2 separate regions of the Homo sapiens genome follow, and region 2 is linked to region 1. The links come from fine-mapping of genetic effects on gene expression. A gene starts in region 1. The other region holds a variant in brackets. All regions are shown on one strand. Distances are from middle to middle.

Region 1 (8,319 bases):
CCAGCAATTTGGGAGGCCAAGGTGGGCAGATCACTTGAGGTCAGGAGTTCAAGACTAGCCTGGCCAACATGGCATTCCTCATGTCGGTGAGCATCCTGGTCCCCAGTTTTCTTTTTTAGTAGAAACCCTGTCTCTACTGAAAATACAAAATCAGCCAGGCATGGTGGCATGTGCCTATAATTCCAGTTACTCGGGAGGCTGAGGCAGGAGAATCGCTTGAACCTGGGAGGAGGAGGCTGCAGTTAGCCAAGATTATGCCACTGCACTCCAGCCTGGGAGACAGAGGGAGACTCTCAAAAACAACAACGACAACCAAAACAAAAACAAAAACTAACCTTTATTTTAGGGCCAGGTGCAGTGGCTCACTCCTGTAATCCCAGCACTTTGAGAGGCTGAGCGAGGCAGGTGGAGCACCTGATGTCAGGAGTTCGAGACCAGCCTGGCCAACATGGTGAAACTCTGTCTCTACTAAAAATGCAAAAATTAGCCGGGCATTGTGGTGGGCGCTTGTGATCCCAGCTTTTCGGGAGGCTGAGGCAGGAGAATCGCTTGAACCTGGGAGGTGGAGTTTACAGTGAGCCGAAATCATGCCATTGCACTCCAGCCTGGGTGACAGAGCGAGACTCCATCTCAAAAACAAACAAACAACAACAACAAAAAACTTTAAAAACAGGCAGCTGGCTGCATTGGCCAGCCAGTATATTTTGCTTACCCCTGGACTAGTCCACCTATCTTGGTTGTTGATTGATTGATACACAGTTATTCTGAAATAGAATCCCTTCCCCATCTTCCCACATTCACACAACTTGATCCAAGTTAGTGAAACTAAAACCAAAATTCCTTGAGCAAACTTCCTGCCTTCTAGCACCGATCTCATTGATCTATCTTCCATGCTATTCCATTCCCACTCACTTCCTCTCTCTAAAATTGATCCACTCAACCCATCTTTTTACTCACAGAGAGTCCCACAGAAATGCCAATGACAATCACTCTCTTCTTCCCGGCAGCCACCTAGGAGAGGAGGATGGACAAGGTAGTGTAACTGGGAGGATTCCAGGGCACAAATCTACTGTGTGAGGATATCAGGGCCAGGAACAGGGGAGGGAGGAAATAGGCTTTGGCTGAATGCTGGGGCTTTTATGTCCCCATGAGAAGGAACAGATAGAGGTCTCTGGTCAATGTCAGTGAAAAGCACAGACCTTCTTCAGTTCCTCAATCCCGTGCAAGGCACTATCTTCTGTCCCCTCCCTAGAGGCCACCACAGACCTAAGAGGACAGACTCAAGGTCAGTGGCAGTGGCTGGAAAGCAGAAGCCTATGGCGTATTAGGGCAGGCTACATTAAGAGATGCGCATAAAGGGAAAACTATCATTGAATGAGCACCCACAGTTTGTTGGTGCATGATAGACACTCCATAGAGTTGAAAAACTCAAATACCTACAACAGCCAGTCAGGCGACATAAGTATGTGAAGTGGGCCAAGTGTGAGGGAATAAGGAATGGTGAGGACTAAGACAAGCCAGACACAATCTCTGTCTAAAGGTATTCCAACTCAATTTCTAAGAAATACTATTTAGGTCAAACAAAATATTCATAGGCTAACTTGGCTTACCTGTCACCACCTGCAATGAGGTAGGTGTAAAGAGGTTTCTGTCCCAGACCTTTCATCAGCTGATTAAAGGACACCTGTCAAGCAGGGAGAGGATGTAAAGAGGTAATGACAGAGAAGAAACAATTATCTTGGATTTTCAACTCCTAGAGGGCAGAGACTATATAATGATTCTCTTAGACCAGTGCTTAACCCAGTCCTACATGGAATCTCGCACTTAAAGCTGCTACTTGGAGATGATTAGTCGGTGGTGCATGGGATGTAGAGACATTGGCAACATACTGGCGGGACTCAGATGGGCTCAGAAGAAATGGGACTTCATGGTGACATCTAGCTTTTGGAAGAGAGAAAGAGCCAGGCTTGGAGTCCAGGTCTAGTGAGGGGGCCACCTGGGAGCTTAGTTATGATGATCTTTATGGTCCTGAGGGTCACCTCCAGAAGTGGAGGGGGAAGAAAACTGGAGACCAGGGTGCTCACCGACATGAGGAATGCCATCCGGCCAGAGGTGCCCCCTCCACTCAGCACAACCAGCCCCCCATCTGGCTCCTGAAGAAGGAAAGAGGCATATATTACCAGGGCCTGGCTCAGGTTGGGAGAAGAATATTCTTTTCTTTGTCAGTAATGCAAGAGGAATTGGAAAGACTCCTTATCCCTCCTCTCATCACAAAATTGAACAAATACATGCAATGTAGTGTAGCAAAAAGAACATTGGATTAGAGAAACCAGTTTGACTCCCATGTCTTGCTCCACTACTTGTTCAAATCCTTACTTCTCCCAGAAAGAACTGAAAGCAGCTTTGTCATCTAAATAAAAGTAAATAATAAAAGCAGCATTATCCAGCAATTATTAGCTCAGTGTATTTGAGCAAGCTACAGTGATTATCCTTTCTAAATCTTTGTTTTTTCATCTGAGGAAAACAAACAGAAGTCATATCAACTTCACAGGCTTTTGTGAGGGTAATAGGTGTGAAAGTAGATTGTCAATTATAAAGTATTAAGCAGAGAAGTTATCATTATTATTTATTAATAAGATGAAAATAAGGATCCAAAAGGGAGGATCTCCAAAAGGGAGAAAGGAGAATGAGATCTATCAAAGTGAGAAATAGAGACAGTAAAAAGAGAAAGAGGGAAACAGAAAAGTTTAGGCAGGGAACAGAAGGAAGGTTAGTACCTTCAGCACTTCCTGAACTTTCCCAGCCACCTGTACCATGGTGGTCAGAATGGATTCGCTGTAGAGTCTCTGTAGGGAATATGCAGGAATGAGAAGCCAAGAAAAGGAGGACGATGAATGGGGGAGGGGGTCTCAGGGTTTCCGATATTAGGAGCCATGGTGAGGGAGAGCAGAGGTGGGGTTGGGGTTGGCATGTTTATTTCCAGGGTCCAGGTCTTGGGTCTTGGTTACCTGGTATGTGGACAGGGCTTGCCCCTCCTCCTGGAAGATCTCAGCATCACATTGCCCTAGCAGTCGAACAATGTTCTCAGCATCTGCTTTGTCTAGATCCTGGGTCAGTGGGTTTGACTTCTCCGTGATTGGCACAGCTGCCTCGTACCCAGACAACTAGAAGGAAGAGGGGACAAGGATGGAGCAGGAAGCCAAAGCCTCATTCATGCCTGCTGAGCTGGAGGTGGGAGTGGCAGCAGGCACAGAGTTTGGACTTACACACACGCACACACATACCACACCAGAAACTCAGCCTGCACTTGGTGCTCTGGGCATATTAGGGAAAGAACATCAGGAAGGAAGAAGAGGTGAGCAGAAACCAGCGGGGAGGGAAGACTGGATGAAAAATAATTCTAGGAATCAGCACAGAAAGCCAACATGAAGAAGGGGTCTCACCTCCCACTTGCCAGGCTCCGGGGTCTCAATGACATGTTGAAACCGTTTTGTGCCTGGCATGGTCCCACGCTGTGGATACACTGTTCCTCCTGCCTCTTCAGCCACACAAACCCCTCTGGTCACAATGACTCTGCTTCCAGTTGGCAGGGCCTTATCTGAGCCCCAGTGATGATTAACCCAAGCACCCTGGGCTCTCAGAGCACCACCCTTTCCTGGTCACTAGGCCCCCAGCCCTCTGGTAACCCCAGGGAAACTCCTGGGCTTCCTCTTTGCAAGCACCCTGACTCGCCAGCCTCTGCTTTGGCCCCTGAAGAGGAAGACCTGAGGCTCGGGACTCTTGCCCTACCGGGACAATGCCCTCTTCTACAGAGGACCTGGAGCCTGGGAGTGCAGGACAACACCCACGGCAGTGAGAATCCCTGGGCAAGTGTCCTCCGAGGCCAGAGATCAGGGTCACCAAGTCAGCACAAGTCAGAGGACCTGGCCCATGGCTTGATCACATGCTCAGCACACACAGTCAGTCCCACTGGTCCCATTTTATCCTCTCCTCTCAGAAAGGAAGGCAGTAGAAGCTTCTGAGCCCCAAGTGTGCACACACTGTACTGGATATTACAGCGGGAAAAATCCCACAGAAACAGAAATACTGCATTGAGAATTAGAAACCAAAGAATCTGCCCTAAATACAATGTTAGCCAACATTTATTTACACTGAACAACACACTTTTCACAGACAGTATCTCATTGGATACACCAACACTAAGATGTTGGTCAATATTGACACCCTCATTTTTCAGATGATGAAACAGGCTCAGAGTAGTTTAGTTGGTTGCTTAAGATCACACAGCTGGACAAATTGGGACTCACACCCAGGTTCTCAATTCAGATTTCAAGCTCAACCAAAGCATGATATAATGTAAGGGCTTACATGTTATTGAACAAAGAAGTAACTAACAGATTGGTGCAAATTAATCTCCATCATCCAGTCACATAGTGTTGTGAGATTTATAAAGATCTTTCCCGTCTCATTTGAGCCTCACAACAACCCTGTGAGATTTCACACGCTTTGCTTTACAGGTGGGAAACCTGAAGCACAGATAAACCAGTTTCTCCAAAACCACACCGTAAGTGGTAGAGCTTTAGAAAAACAAAAAAAGAAAAGAAAGGAATAATAATTTTTTTAAAAAAGCCATAGGTCTTTGCGCTTTGATTCTCCCGAGAAGCCCAACACTCTTAACAATCACTGTATCTCCAGGTTTTAATATAATGCCAGACACATAGGAGATGCTCAATAAATATTTGGTGAATAAATGAAAGAATGAATGAGAAAGCGAACGGAATTAAATGAGATTATGAATGGAAAAGAGACTTAAAAGCTGACGCAGTCTACAAGTAAGGGATTGTTAAAGCAATTATTATCTCCCTCACTCTCTCCCCTCTCCTGTTAGCCCCTCGGGCACTGGAGGTGGAATTCCTCTTCCCAACTTGGCTCTTCCACGCGGGGAGGAAGGGGATCTCCCAGGTGCCGGAGACCCTAGCACCCGCGTCTCACCCCCCACGCCCCCGCCGACTCGTCCGCTTCAGCTGGGAGAGAGAAGGGATAAGGGATGGGGGCTCCGGAGGCGCCATTGGGAGGGTCGTGGGAGGAGCCCCGAGAGGACGGGAGTGAGGGGGCGGGAGGGGAATGACGGCGGCGAGAACCCCGGCTGGGCGGGGCGGGCCCGCGCGTCCCGGCCGGGCTGCGGCGGAGCGAGCGGGGCCAGCGCTGCAGAAGGCGGCGGCTGGCTCTCCGGGACGGTCACATCCCGCTGCAGGGGCGGGCGGAGGCCGCCGCACTGCCTCCCGCACCGGGGACCCAGGCCAGCGTCCGGGCAACGCCCCCTGCTCCCGGACAGACTCCGTGGCCCGCTCGAGCCCTGGGGGCTCCGCAGACCCGCGCCCGCTCCGCCCGCAGCTCGGCCCCGCGCTGCCCGCGTCGCCGGGCCCGCGCCGGGATGGGGTAGGGGCAGCGCCACCGAGTCGGGCGATGGGCCGCCCTCTGGGCACCGAGCAGCCCCCCGAGGCCTGACCAACCGCGAGGACCGGCGGAGGTGGGTGTGGGCAGGGCGGACCGCACTCTGGGGCCGCCCGGGCAATGCGGGGGCGGGAGGGCGTAGAGAAAATAGGGCTGTTGTGAGCTGTGGGGAGCCCAGGAGAGCTGCTGCCCCCCGACCTCCGTGCGTTCTGGGCAGTCCTTGACCCCCCACAACTCCTGCCATCTCCAGGAGCCCCGCCTGGATGTCAAGCGGATGCCAAGCGGATGCCACAGTTCCCCCCCCAGCGGACTCCGTGGGGACATGGCTTCGCTGGTGCCCCTTTCCCCATATCTAAGCCCCACGGTCCTCCTGCTGGTCAGCTGTGACCTGGGCTTCGTGCGAGCAGGTAAGTAAAGGGGAACGGGGCTGAGGGTCAACCACAGCTAGTCAATGGGTGAAACCTGTTAAACACCCTGGCTCCCGCAGACCGGCCTCCCTCTCCTGTGAATGTGACGGTCACTCACCTCAGAGCCAACTCGGCCACTGTGTCCTGGGACGTCCCAGAAGGCAACATCGTCATTGGCTACTCCATTTCCCAGCAAGTATGAATCACCCTTCTGCTCCCCCAACCTGTGTCCTTGGATTTCGGCACATTTCTTCACTTAAGTGGGGGGGATCTGGAAGCTGGCGTATCCTGGCTCAGGCTGCCCTTTTCACGCTACTCCCCCGGAGTGCTTGGATGTTGAAGAGTCTCTGGTTGAGCCTTGTGGCCTGGCACTGGGGTGAGGCTGTCCTCCTCTCCCCTCATCTCCCTGCAGCGGCAGAATGGCCCCGGGCAGCGTGTGATTCGGGAGGTGAACACCACCACCCGGGCCTGTGCCCTCTGGGGCCTGGCTGAAGACAGTGACTACACAGTGCAGGTCAGGAGCATCGGCCTTCGGGGAGAGAGTCCCCCAGGGCCCCGGGTGCACTTCCGAACTCTCAAGGGTTCTGACCGGCTACCTTCAAACAGTTCAAGCCCAGGTGAGGATCTGTGCTATTGGATTCTCTGGCTGCTTACCTGGCTTGCAGCCTCTTACTTACTTCCCCAAGACAAGCAACAGACTAGCTGAGTTGAATAGGATGATTTAATTCATTGTACTGCCAGGAAAGGAAAGAAAAGCAGGTGGGAAGGGGATTGGGTATAGACAGGCTGGTATTGAGTTGTTTGGGGGAAGGCCTTTTAAGCTTCCTGTTACCCAACTTCACATCAGCTGCAGCCTGCATGAGTGAGTAATTAACCTGCAGCCATCCCGCTTTTTGGTCGCTAACCACCTGTCCACCAACGGCTTCCTCCCAGGGAGGGGCTACCCTACACTCCAAGGGCAACATTATGATGGGTCCACCCTTTCTAATCCCCAGCATCTCCATCCTGCATGTCTGCAGTATGGACCCCAGTAACCTGGAGTCTGCCTTCTGCCTTCTCCCTTCTCAGGTGACATCACAGTGGAAGGTCTGGATGGAGAGCGGCCACTGCAGACTGGGGAAGTGGTCATCATTGTGGTGGTGTTGCTCATGTGGGCTGGTGAGTAAGCAGCTAGACAGGGGACCAGGGACTCAGTAAAGGTGTGAGGTGGCAAAGGTTGTCAGGAGAAAAAGAAGTGAGAGATACAGTGGCTCACGCCTGTAATCCCAGCACTTTGGGAGGCCAAGGCAGGCAGATCACCTGAGGTCAGGAGTTTGAGACCAGCCTGGCCAACATGGTGAAACCCGTCTCTACTAAAAATACAAAAATTAGCAGAGTGTGGTGGAGGGCGCCTGTAACCCCAGCTACTCAGGAGGCTGAGGCAGAAGAATTGCTTGAACTCAGGAGGTGGAAGTTGCAGTGAGCGAGCCGAGATCATGCCACTGCACTCCAGCCTGGGCAACAGAACGAGACTCTGTCTCAAAAAAAAAAAAAAAAAAAAAGTAAGAGAAATAGAGTGGAGTGGGGAGATACTTAGTTCAGGAGGGATGATTTGAACTTTGAAGAGAGGGAGAGGAGGCTGTTGAGAGCCCAGAGAGGAGGACTGCATGGGCACCAGGAATTCAGGATGTTCTTCATGGATTTTCTAGAAGCTACGTAGGTATCTCCCTATGAGGGGGGAAGTGGAGATGAAGGCTCAGACTGTATTGTGTTTCAGCTGTAATTGGGCTGTTCTGCCGTCAGTATGACATCATCAAGGACAATGACTCCAACAACAATCCCAAGGAGAAGGGAAAGGGGCCGGAACAGAGTCCTCAGGGAAGGCCAGTGGGGACAAGACAGGTGATGTGGGGGCCAGTGAGGGCGGAAAGGGTGATTCTGCCCCTGAGGGGCAGCCAGGGAAAGGAAGAAGGTCAAAGAGGGGCAGAAAAAGATGGAGAATGGAAGATCTGGGATGGGGGAGGCTGGAGAGAAAGGGTGGCACCTATTACCTTCCTGAAGTTGAGACTCAGGCCATTTTCTTTCACAGAAAAAGTCACCATCTATCAACACCATCGACGTTTGAGTGAAGAAACACACCCAGAAGAGAGATGCACTAACAACTGGGGATAGGGATGGGGTCAGGGGGAGCCCAAGATGGTGATCTGCCCGAGACTCCCAGAGGGTAATGCCACTCCCACAATCTCAGGCCTGGTACCCATCCTCTTTCCACTGTGAGCAGAGCCAGAAGGTAGGTCTGTTCAGAGTCTGTGCCCCTGGACCTGGGGAGTGGATATCAGATGGGATATCTCCTTCCATTCCCCGGTCCAGGGGAGAGTCACTAGTTGTACCCTACTCCATTAGGTCCCAAATGGGGGCCCCATTTCACCTGTATCAGGACTCTGAGCATCCCCAGCTGCCCCACATCTTGCCTCTGGCC
Region 2 (8,328 bases), 24 kb before region 1:
AAACAGAGCTCACATAGAGGCTGCAGGCCCTCAGATGCACAGAGGGGCCTATGGCCACCTTAAAAAGGTTGATTACTCTATCCTCATAAAACCAAAATCTGGCTCCTTTGCAGTCACCCTCCTGCCTAAAAGTTCCAGGGACCTTTCCAGAGAGTTTCATCCCCAGAGGAATGTTCCTGAGTATCTATTACCTGGATATTTCTCAGGCACAAGGAGGAACCAGCTCTCTACTGTCAGGGCCATATATCACAGGCCCTAAAGAGCTGGCATGAATCTAGGATGAACAAGGGTGTCTTTGATTTGTCAAAACATGGGGTAGCTGATGTCTAAAATGTACAGCCCGGGGTTTCTAGTGTTTGTTGGGTCCCACCACCAAGGGCTTTCAGCACCTCCAGAGTTCCTTATGTTCCTCTTACAAACACGGGGCAGGGGATGTGACCCTCATTTCATGGTCTAATGCGTGGATGTAGCAGTCATTCTAGATCTTGTCATGTCTGATTAAGACTGCCCTTTTTCTGGGTTTCCTATGTTAGGTACACAACTTCTTCCCTCTTCCCCTGGAATTATCTAAAAGTTCCCACCTCTCATTGTGTGTCTGTGTGGGATTGGAGTGTGTGTGCACGCATGCACACGTGGCTGCATGTTGGTAATGAAAATATAGGGATGCCAGTATAAGGCTTGTGTTAGGGACCAATGAAATGGAGTTGGGGACAGAATTAAAGAAACAAATCTGCTGTTAAGACCAACCCATGCCACCCATCCTATCCCACCTCTGATCTACTGTTTGATTTACTGACTTTGAAAGGTTAACTTTCCAAAATAAGACATTTCATTTTATTTCTGAAATCAGAATAAGTCGGTGAGAGTAGAAACCACTAGGTCGAGAGCAAGAACTCTCCCCCAAAGTGGAGAGAATATTTCTCCCTACCCTGGGCTGCGGATGCCCTGGAAACGGGGCTTCTTCCTCCCACATGTTCTGCTGGCACAAGTCCCCTTGGGCGGGCTGGGCTGAAGTGGGCAGGGTTGGGCCCCTTTCACCCACCCAGAAACATGGGTTCACTGAACGTCAGGCTCTAGGATCTCGAGGGGGTCCGCAGTGCGCTTCTGACCTGGCCCAGCAAGAGCACTCCTGACAGCCTCACAGACAGAAGGAGCTGCAGCCAGGTGTGCCTGAGCCTCAGTGATCGAGCACCGGAATAGGAGGCTCAGCAAGGCGATGGGTATCACCTGTGGGGAAGAGGCAGTGGGCACTGAAGCCTGAGGGAATGAGGTCATCAGAGAAAGAACCCCGGAGGAAGGTCGGGCGCAGTGGCTCACGCCTGTAATCCCAGCACTTTGGGAGGCCGAGGTGGGCAGATCACTTAAGTTCAGGAGTTTGAGACAAGCCTGGCCAATATGGCGAAACCCCATCTCTACTAAAAATACAAAAATTAGCCAGGCATTGGTGGCTGGCACCTGTAATCCCAGCTATTTGGGAGGCTGAAGCAAGAGAATCTCTTGAACCCGGGGGCAGAGGTTGCAGTGAGCCGAGATCGCGCCACTGCACTCCAGCAGCCTGGGTGACAGAGCAAGACTCTCTCTCAAAAAAAAAAAAAAAACAGAACCCTGGAGGAGTTAAAGCATTTGATACAGGAATCAGGAGCCACTAGGTTAGATGCAAATAGGATGTTATTAAGATTAGAAGGTGGTAACAAGGTGGATTAAGAGCAGAAAGAAACCTTCACTTTGACCAGGAAAACTCCTATTCATCCTTCAAAACCCAGTCCAAAGACCCCATGAATGTGGAGGTCCTTGTGAGCAGAGTGCCACTGAGCTTTGTAAACCCAGTGCCGAACAAACTTCCTGACACACTGAAAGTACTCAAAAAGTATTTGTTGAATGACCAGCAGTGGGCAGGATACCTGTTCCTTCTCATGTGCAACCTGGACATGGCAGGAGATGGGAGCAGCCCGAATATCATCTGACAGTGGCTGGGGAAAGTGGATCGCTCGGAGGAGGCTCTCGATGCATCGAGCCTTGGACTGTCCAGAGAACCGCTAAGGAAGAAGTGGTAAGATCAGTGTCAGGCTAAAGGCCAGAGGAACTAAGAATGGAGTCAAGGGAGAAGAATAAACTATGAGAGTGAGAGGCTGGGATCCCGAGGCCTGGCTATAGAGGCTGTAGATGATTTGTCCATGTTGGCAATCCTAAATTGTAATTCCCAGGTGTAAAGAAAAACTAGGTTAAAGGGGTTGGTGGTGGGCTTGACTGGCTGGGTTAAACTGGAGGATTAATGGCAAATTGCTCAAATTTGCATGTGTGTCCCACCAATCCTGTAGGTTGGTAATCTGGACTCCCTCTCTCTAGTTTCCTCTGTAACCAAATCCATCTTGCACACTAATGTAAGACTGTTCATCTGCAAACACTGCTTCCATTTTGTCACTACCCTCCTCTCTGTCTAGCTCAGCATTGTCCAGTAGAAATATAATGCAAGGCTGGGCACAGTGGGTCACACCTGTAATCCCAGCACTTTGGGAGGTCAAAACAGGAGGATTACTTGAGCCCAGGAGTTCGAGACCAGCCTAGGCAACACAGCAAGACCCCATCTCTACAAAAAATAAAACAAATTAGCTGGGCATGGTGGCACCTGCCTATCGTCCCAGCTACTCAGGAGGCTGAGGTGGGAGGATTGCCTGAGCTCAGGAGTTTGAGGCTGTAGTGAGCCGGATGGTGCCAATGCACTGCCCTCCAGCCTGGGTAACAGCGTGAGACCCTGTCTCTAAAAAAAATAAAAATAAAGAAAAAAATATAATGCAAACCACATATGTAAGTTTAAGTTTTCAGTAGCTGCATTAAAAAAAGAAATAGGTGAAATTGGCCAGGCACAGCAGCTCACACCTGTAATCCCAGCACTTTGAGAGGCTGAGGCAGGTGGATCACAAGGTCAGGAGTTGGAGACCAGCCTGGCCAATATGGTGAAATCCCGTCTCTACTAAAAATACAAAAAAAAAAAAAAAAATTAGCTGGGTGTGGTGGCGCATGCCTGTAATCCCAGCTACTCAGGAGGCTGAGGCAGGAGGATCACTTGAACCCAGGAGGTGGAGGTTGCAGTGAGCCGAGATCATGCCACTGCACTCCAGCCTGGGTGACAGAGTGAGACTCCATCTCAAAAAAAAAAAAAATGTGATTTCACCTATTTCTCCTGACCTTGTGATCTGCCCGCTTTGGCCTCCCAAAGTGCTGGGATTACAGGTGTAAGCCACCACACCTGGCCTGAAATCAATTTTAATAATATATTTTATTTAACCCAATATATAACCCAATGTAAACAATATTAAACATTATTAGTCAGATATTTTGCAATATTTTTCTATATTCGGATTTTGTATTTTGAAATCCAGTGTGTATTTTGCAACTAGAGCACACCTCAATTTGTTTTTTTGTGGCTTTTTTTAATTTTAATTTTATTTTTTGAGAGATAGTCTCACTCTGTCACCTAGGCTGGAGTGCAGTGGCACTATCTTGGCTCACTGAAACCTCCACCTCCCAGATTCAAGCTATTCTCCTGCCTCAGCCTCCCTAGTAGACAGGACTATAGGCCTGTGCCAACATGCCCGGCTATTTTTTTATTTTTTTTATTTTTAGTAGAGACGGGGTTTCACCATGTTGGCCAGGCTGGTCTCGAACTCCTGACCTCAAGTGATCTGCCTGCTTCGGCCTCCCAGAATGCTGGGATTACAGGCGTGAGCCACCGTGCCCAGCCAGCCCACCTCAATTTGGGTGCTAGATTTGCAATGCTAAAAAGAGAAATGTAGTCCTACCAAAATATTAAAGTTACATTTAATTTAAAAAGTATACAGCTTTGGTTTTTACATAAAATTAAAAATTCAGTTCCTCAGTCACATTAGCCACATTTCAAGTGCTCAATAGCCACATGTGGCTGGTGGCCAATGTTTTGGACAGCGCAGGTCTAGCTGCATTTGGCAAAGTCCAAATTCCTGCCTGGCTTTAACCTCCCACATCCCTCCCCTTCCTACTTCTTCACAATCCCTCACTGCGCTCTAAAGTGACTTGCCACTCTGGTTAGACCTGTGTCCCTCACATATCATGCCCAGTCCCCCTTCTGGGACTTGGTGAATGACCTAACAGGAATGCTCTTCTGTCCACC[T/C]ATCCAAGCCATAACCACCAGGCCTAGCTCAAAATACCACCCCTTCCATGAGGCCTTCTTTTTGCTATAATGCATTCTGACCCCCACCTTCTTTATACCTCCACTGGACTTCAGTAAGGACCATAGTTTATTTTGGGGACCTGGTGGGTGCTCACTAAATGTTCATTGATTGATTCCTTTCACATAGGGTTGCCAGATTTTGTGAATAAAAATACAGGACATCCAAATATATAATGAAAAAAATCAAAAATATCTCAAATATTGCATAGGGCATACTTGATGGAAAAATTATTCCATATTTATCTGAAATTCAAATTTAACTGGGCGTCCTGTATTTTTATTTGCCGAATCTGGCGACCCCATTTTCATGACCATCTGTTGTGCCGTCTGCTCAACATCCACTCCTTCTGGTATCAGCACCTTGGTTTTCCTCTGAGGATCTATCGCTTCCCCATGCTCAGGTAATGAGGTTGGATTGAGGCTCACCTCCCAGCCCTTCTTCCACCACCATCCTGAAGGGAAAGCACATGATCCAGACTGGGCAGAGCATCCCTTGCTCTGGAGAACAGTGATTGCTTCAGGGACATGCATGTGTCCCAAGCAAGAGCCCCCAACCAGGCATTTGCAAGAACCACAGGACAGGCAAGCTCTTTGCCCACTAGTGTTGCTACGTAAATTGTCAGGCTGGCACTACTGGTGGCCAGTTTGCCACCTAATGGAAAAAACTTGCCTAAGAATGAGAGCAACGGCCGGGTGCAGTGACTCACGCCTGTAATCCCAGCACTTTAGGAGGCTGAGGCAGGTGGATCACCTGAGGTCAGGAGTTCGAGACCAGCCTGGCCAACATGGCAAAACCCTGTCTCTGCTAAAAAATATAAAATTAGCTGGGCATGGTGGGGGGTGCCTGTAATCCCAGCTACTCGGGAGGCTGAGGCAGGAGAATCAATGGAACCTCAGAGGCGGAGGTTGCACTGAGCTGAAATAGCACCGCTATACTCCAGCCTGGGCGATAGAGCAAGACCCCATCTCAAAAAAAAAAAAAGAATGAGAGCAACACAGGGGAAAACAGAGTTAAGGGTGGAAAGTTCTGGAACACATTAGATTCAGCTGCCCTAAGATTGTTCAGTTATATCAGCCACCATTTTCTTTGTTTAGCTTAAACCAGTATAAACTCGTTTTCCATCACGTTTGTAACTGAAAGAGTCTTGCCTAATAATTACAATTTCACAAACACACCCATGTGTGCACACACACTCCTTAAGGGGAAGATGCACCTAATAGGAGGAGCAGAAGCACACAGAAAAGGCAGCCTGTACCCTTGCACATTTCCATATCTCTACAAAATGCCCTCCTCTGGCAGCCTAAGCATTGAGGCCAGGTCCCACCCAACCCTGCCCCATCATATCCCTACCTGCAGCATGGCCAGCGCCCGCCAGAAGAGCTTGGAGTTGCTAATCCGAAGGTCCAACATGTGGTTTTGTAGGATCTTACCAAGAAGCACATGAGCACCTGTACTCACTGTATTCAGCACCCATTTGGTGCTTAGCTCACGCTGGAACTTCTGAAAAGGGCAGACACATGGGGGTGTCAAAAATTAGAGGACAGAAAAGCAGCAGAGTGAACAGGGCCCTGTTATCAGACAGGAAACCAACTGTCAAGAACCAGGGACCAAAATGCAAACATGATTTGTTTGAGCAGCCCAGCGTTTAAATGTTAGGGCAATAGATGTAAACCAGGATTGTCTCAGGCAAACCTGGTAGCTTCACCCATTTGTGTTTTTGACCCCTAGGTAGACAGACATGTTCTCTGAGTCCTTCCATATTAGAATTTTGATCCTGCTGAATTGTTCCTTTTTCTCCCCGGGTATCAGACAGGAGGAGTGGGATTCATTCCACTAAACCACAGGCTTCTTGAAAGGGCAGAGATGGTGACTTATTCTGCTCCAGGGCCCCAGTTTTTTAGACCATGACTGACACATATTTGCTGATCAATACATTTGTTGAGGCCGGGCACAGTGGCTCACTCCTGTAATCCCACCACTTTGGGAGGCCAAGGTTGGGGGATCACCTGAGGTCAGGAGTTCTCAACAAGCCTAGCCAACATGATGAAATGCTGTCTCTACTAAATACACAAAAATTAGCTAGGAGTGGTGGCATACACCTGTAATCCCAGCTACTCGGGGGGCTGAGGCACAAGAATCACTTGAACCCGGGAGGTGGAGGTTGCAGTGAGCCTAGATTGTGCCACTGCACTCCAGCCTGGGCAACAGAGTGAGACTATGTCTCAGGGGAAAAAAAAATGTTTGTTGAAAAATGAATTCTATTTAATTTTTCTAACAGCCCTACAGAATAAGTTTACCTATCCTCATTTCTACATATGAGGAAACTAGAGGTCAGAAGTAAATTAACTTGGAGAAGCTCATATGATAACGAGATGGAGAATGAGGACCTAAATCCCGGTCTTCTGATTCAATGATGAGGGCATTTCCTACTTTGCCACAAATATCTCCTGGATGAATGAGAGAACCTATGTAAAGGCATGTTGAAAACTAAAAAATTGTTCAAACATGTGGTATCGCGAGTATAAAACTGCCCCTTGTTTTTGGCCCTTATATCTTGTCCACCTTGGGGCACTTATAACACCTATTGGCACATTAGCAGGGAAACTGGGGCCCAGTAAAGGTGTTGAGGGGATTAATTAACTGGTGATATGGTTAGGCTTTGTGTCCTCACCCAAATCTCATCTTGAATTGTAATCCCCATAATCCCCATGTGTCAAGAGAGAGACCAGGTGGAGGTAATTGAATCATGGGGGGCAGGGGGCGTTCCCCCATGCTGTTCTTGGGATAGTGAGTTCTCATGAGATCTGATGGTTTTATAAGGGGGCTGTTCCCCCTTCACTTGGCACTTCTCCTTTCTGCCACCTTGGGAAGAAGATGCCTTACTTCCCCTTCACCTTCCACCATGATTGTAAGTTTCCTGAGGCCTCCCCAGCCATGCTGAACTGTGGGTCAATTAAACCTCTTTCCTTTATAAATCACCCAGTCTCGGGCAGTTCTTTAGAGCAGTATGAAAATGTACTGGCCAAGGTGGGCGGATCATGAGGTCAGGAGATTGAGACCATCCTGGCTAACATGGTGAAACCCCGTCTCTACTAAAAATACAAAAATTAGCCAGGCATGGTAGCAAGCACCTGTAAGTCAGAGCTACTTAGGAGGCTGAGGCAGGAGAATCACTTGAACCCAGGAGGCAGAGGTTGCAGTGAGCCTAGATCACGCCACTGCACTCCAGCCTGGCGACAGAATGAGACTCCATATTAAAAAAAAAAAAAAAAAAGGTACTAATACACGTGGTCCTAGCCAGGCTGAGGAAACAGGCTACTGCTACTTTTACCTCTTTATTCTGGAACTCTAGAAATAGCTGTTCACACAAAACCCTGGAAGAGGGTATATTGAAAACATTTTAATAAGTGAATGTCCACGACACTAAATATAAGAACAGCATGAAATTTCAGCATGAAACTGGCCAGTAAGTATGCAGTACTGATGCTATAGGGTGCGTGTCAGACTGCACTTTGGGAGAGAGGTCAATTAGATCTAGGTTATACCACTAACCATTGATACCATTAACATTAACACCATTAACACAAAAATATTTTAAATTTTACAAAATTTGGAGTGCGACACATTCATTTTAAAGTACACATGGAAAAATCGGCCTGGATATAGCCAGGAAAATCCTTAAAAAGAAGAATAGGCTGGGCACAGTGGCTCACGCCTATAATCCCAGCACTTTGGGAGGCTGAGGTGAGTGGATCACTTGAAGTCAGGAGTTTGAGACCAGCCTGGCCAACAGGGTGAAACCTGATCTCTACTAAAAATACAAAAGAAAATTTGCCTGGTGTAGTGGCGCGTGCCTGTAATCCCAGCTACTTGGGAGGCTGAGGCAAGAGAATCACTTGAACCTGGGGGGCGGAGGTTGCAGTGAGCCGAGATCATACCATTGAACTCCAACTTGGGCAACAGAATGAGACTCCATCTCAAAAAAAAAAAAAAAAAAAAAAAAACAAGAATGAAGAACAAACCCTATTGGATACCAAACATACCATAACGCCTCCATAATTAAAACATATGGTACCAGCACATCAATAGACAAACCAGTGGAACAGAATAGAAAGTCCAT

Direction of the effects. Alleles are on the strand shown, and positions count from the first base shown. SD is a standard deviation of normalised expression in the study named.
For the expression in thyroid of the gene that starts at base 5,208 in region 1, T is the low allele of the variant in region 2 and C is the other (moderate effect, 0.50 SD a copy in GTEx).

The links.
Region 2: its variant is fine-mapped to the expression of FNDC4 in thyroid (GTEx, PIP 0.99).

The regions. Positions count from the first base shown.
Region 1 is chr2:27,492,089-27,500,407 of GRCh38, reverse strand. It overlaps FNDC4 (fibronectin type III domain containing 4), which reads left to right and starts at 5,208. Exons shown (of 7, transcript NM_022823.3): 1 at 5,208-5,530; 2 at 5,705-5,861; 3 at 5,942-6,057; 4 at 6,274-6,478; 5 at 6,930-7,019; 6 at 7,618-7,742; 7 at 7,930-8,319. The coding sequence starts at 5,729. The coding sequence ends at 7,965. It overlaps GCKR (glucokinase regulator), which reads right to left and starts at 3,569. Exons shown (of 19, transcript NM_001486.4): 1 at 3,444-3,569; 2 at 3,009-3,164; 3 at 2,778-2,846; 4 at 2,085-2,153; 5 at 1,611-1,684; 6 at 1,200-1,266; 7 at 958-1,011. The coding sequence starts at 3,503.
Region 2 is chr2:27,516,168-27,524,495 of GRCh38, reverse strand. GCKR (glucokinase regulator) reads right to left here. Exons shown (of 19, transcript NM_001486.4): 17 at 5,559-5,708; 18 at 1,902-2,036; 19 at 812-1,227. The coding sequence ends at 1,057. Among named protein-coding and RNA genes, the nearest start is that of SPATA31H1, 17 kb to the left of the region's middle. The variant T/C (reference allele first, on the strand shown) is at 4,148.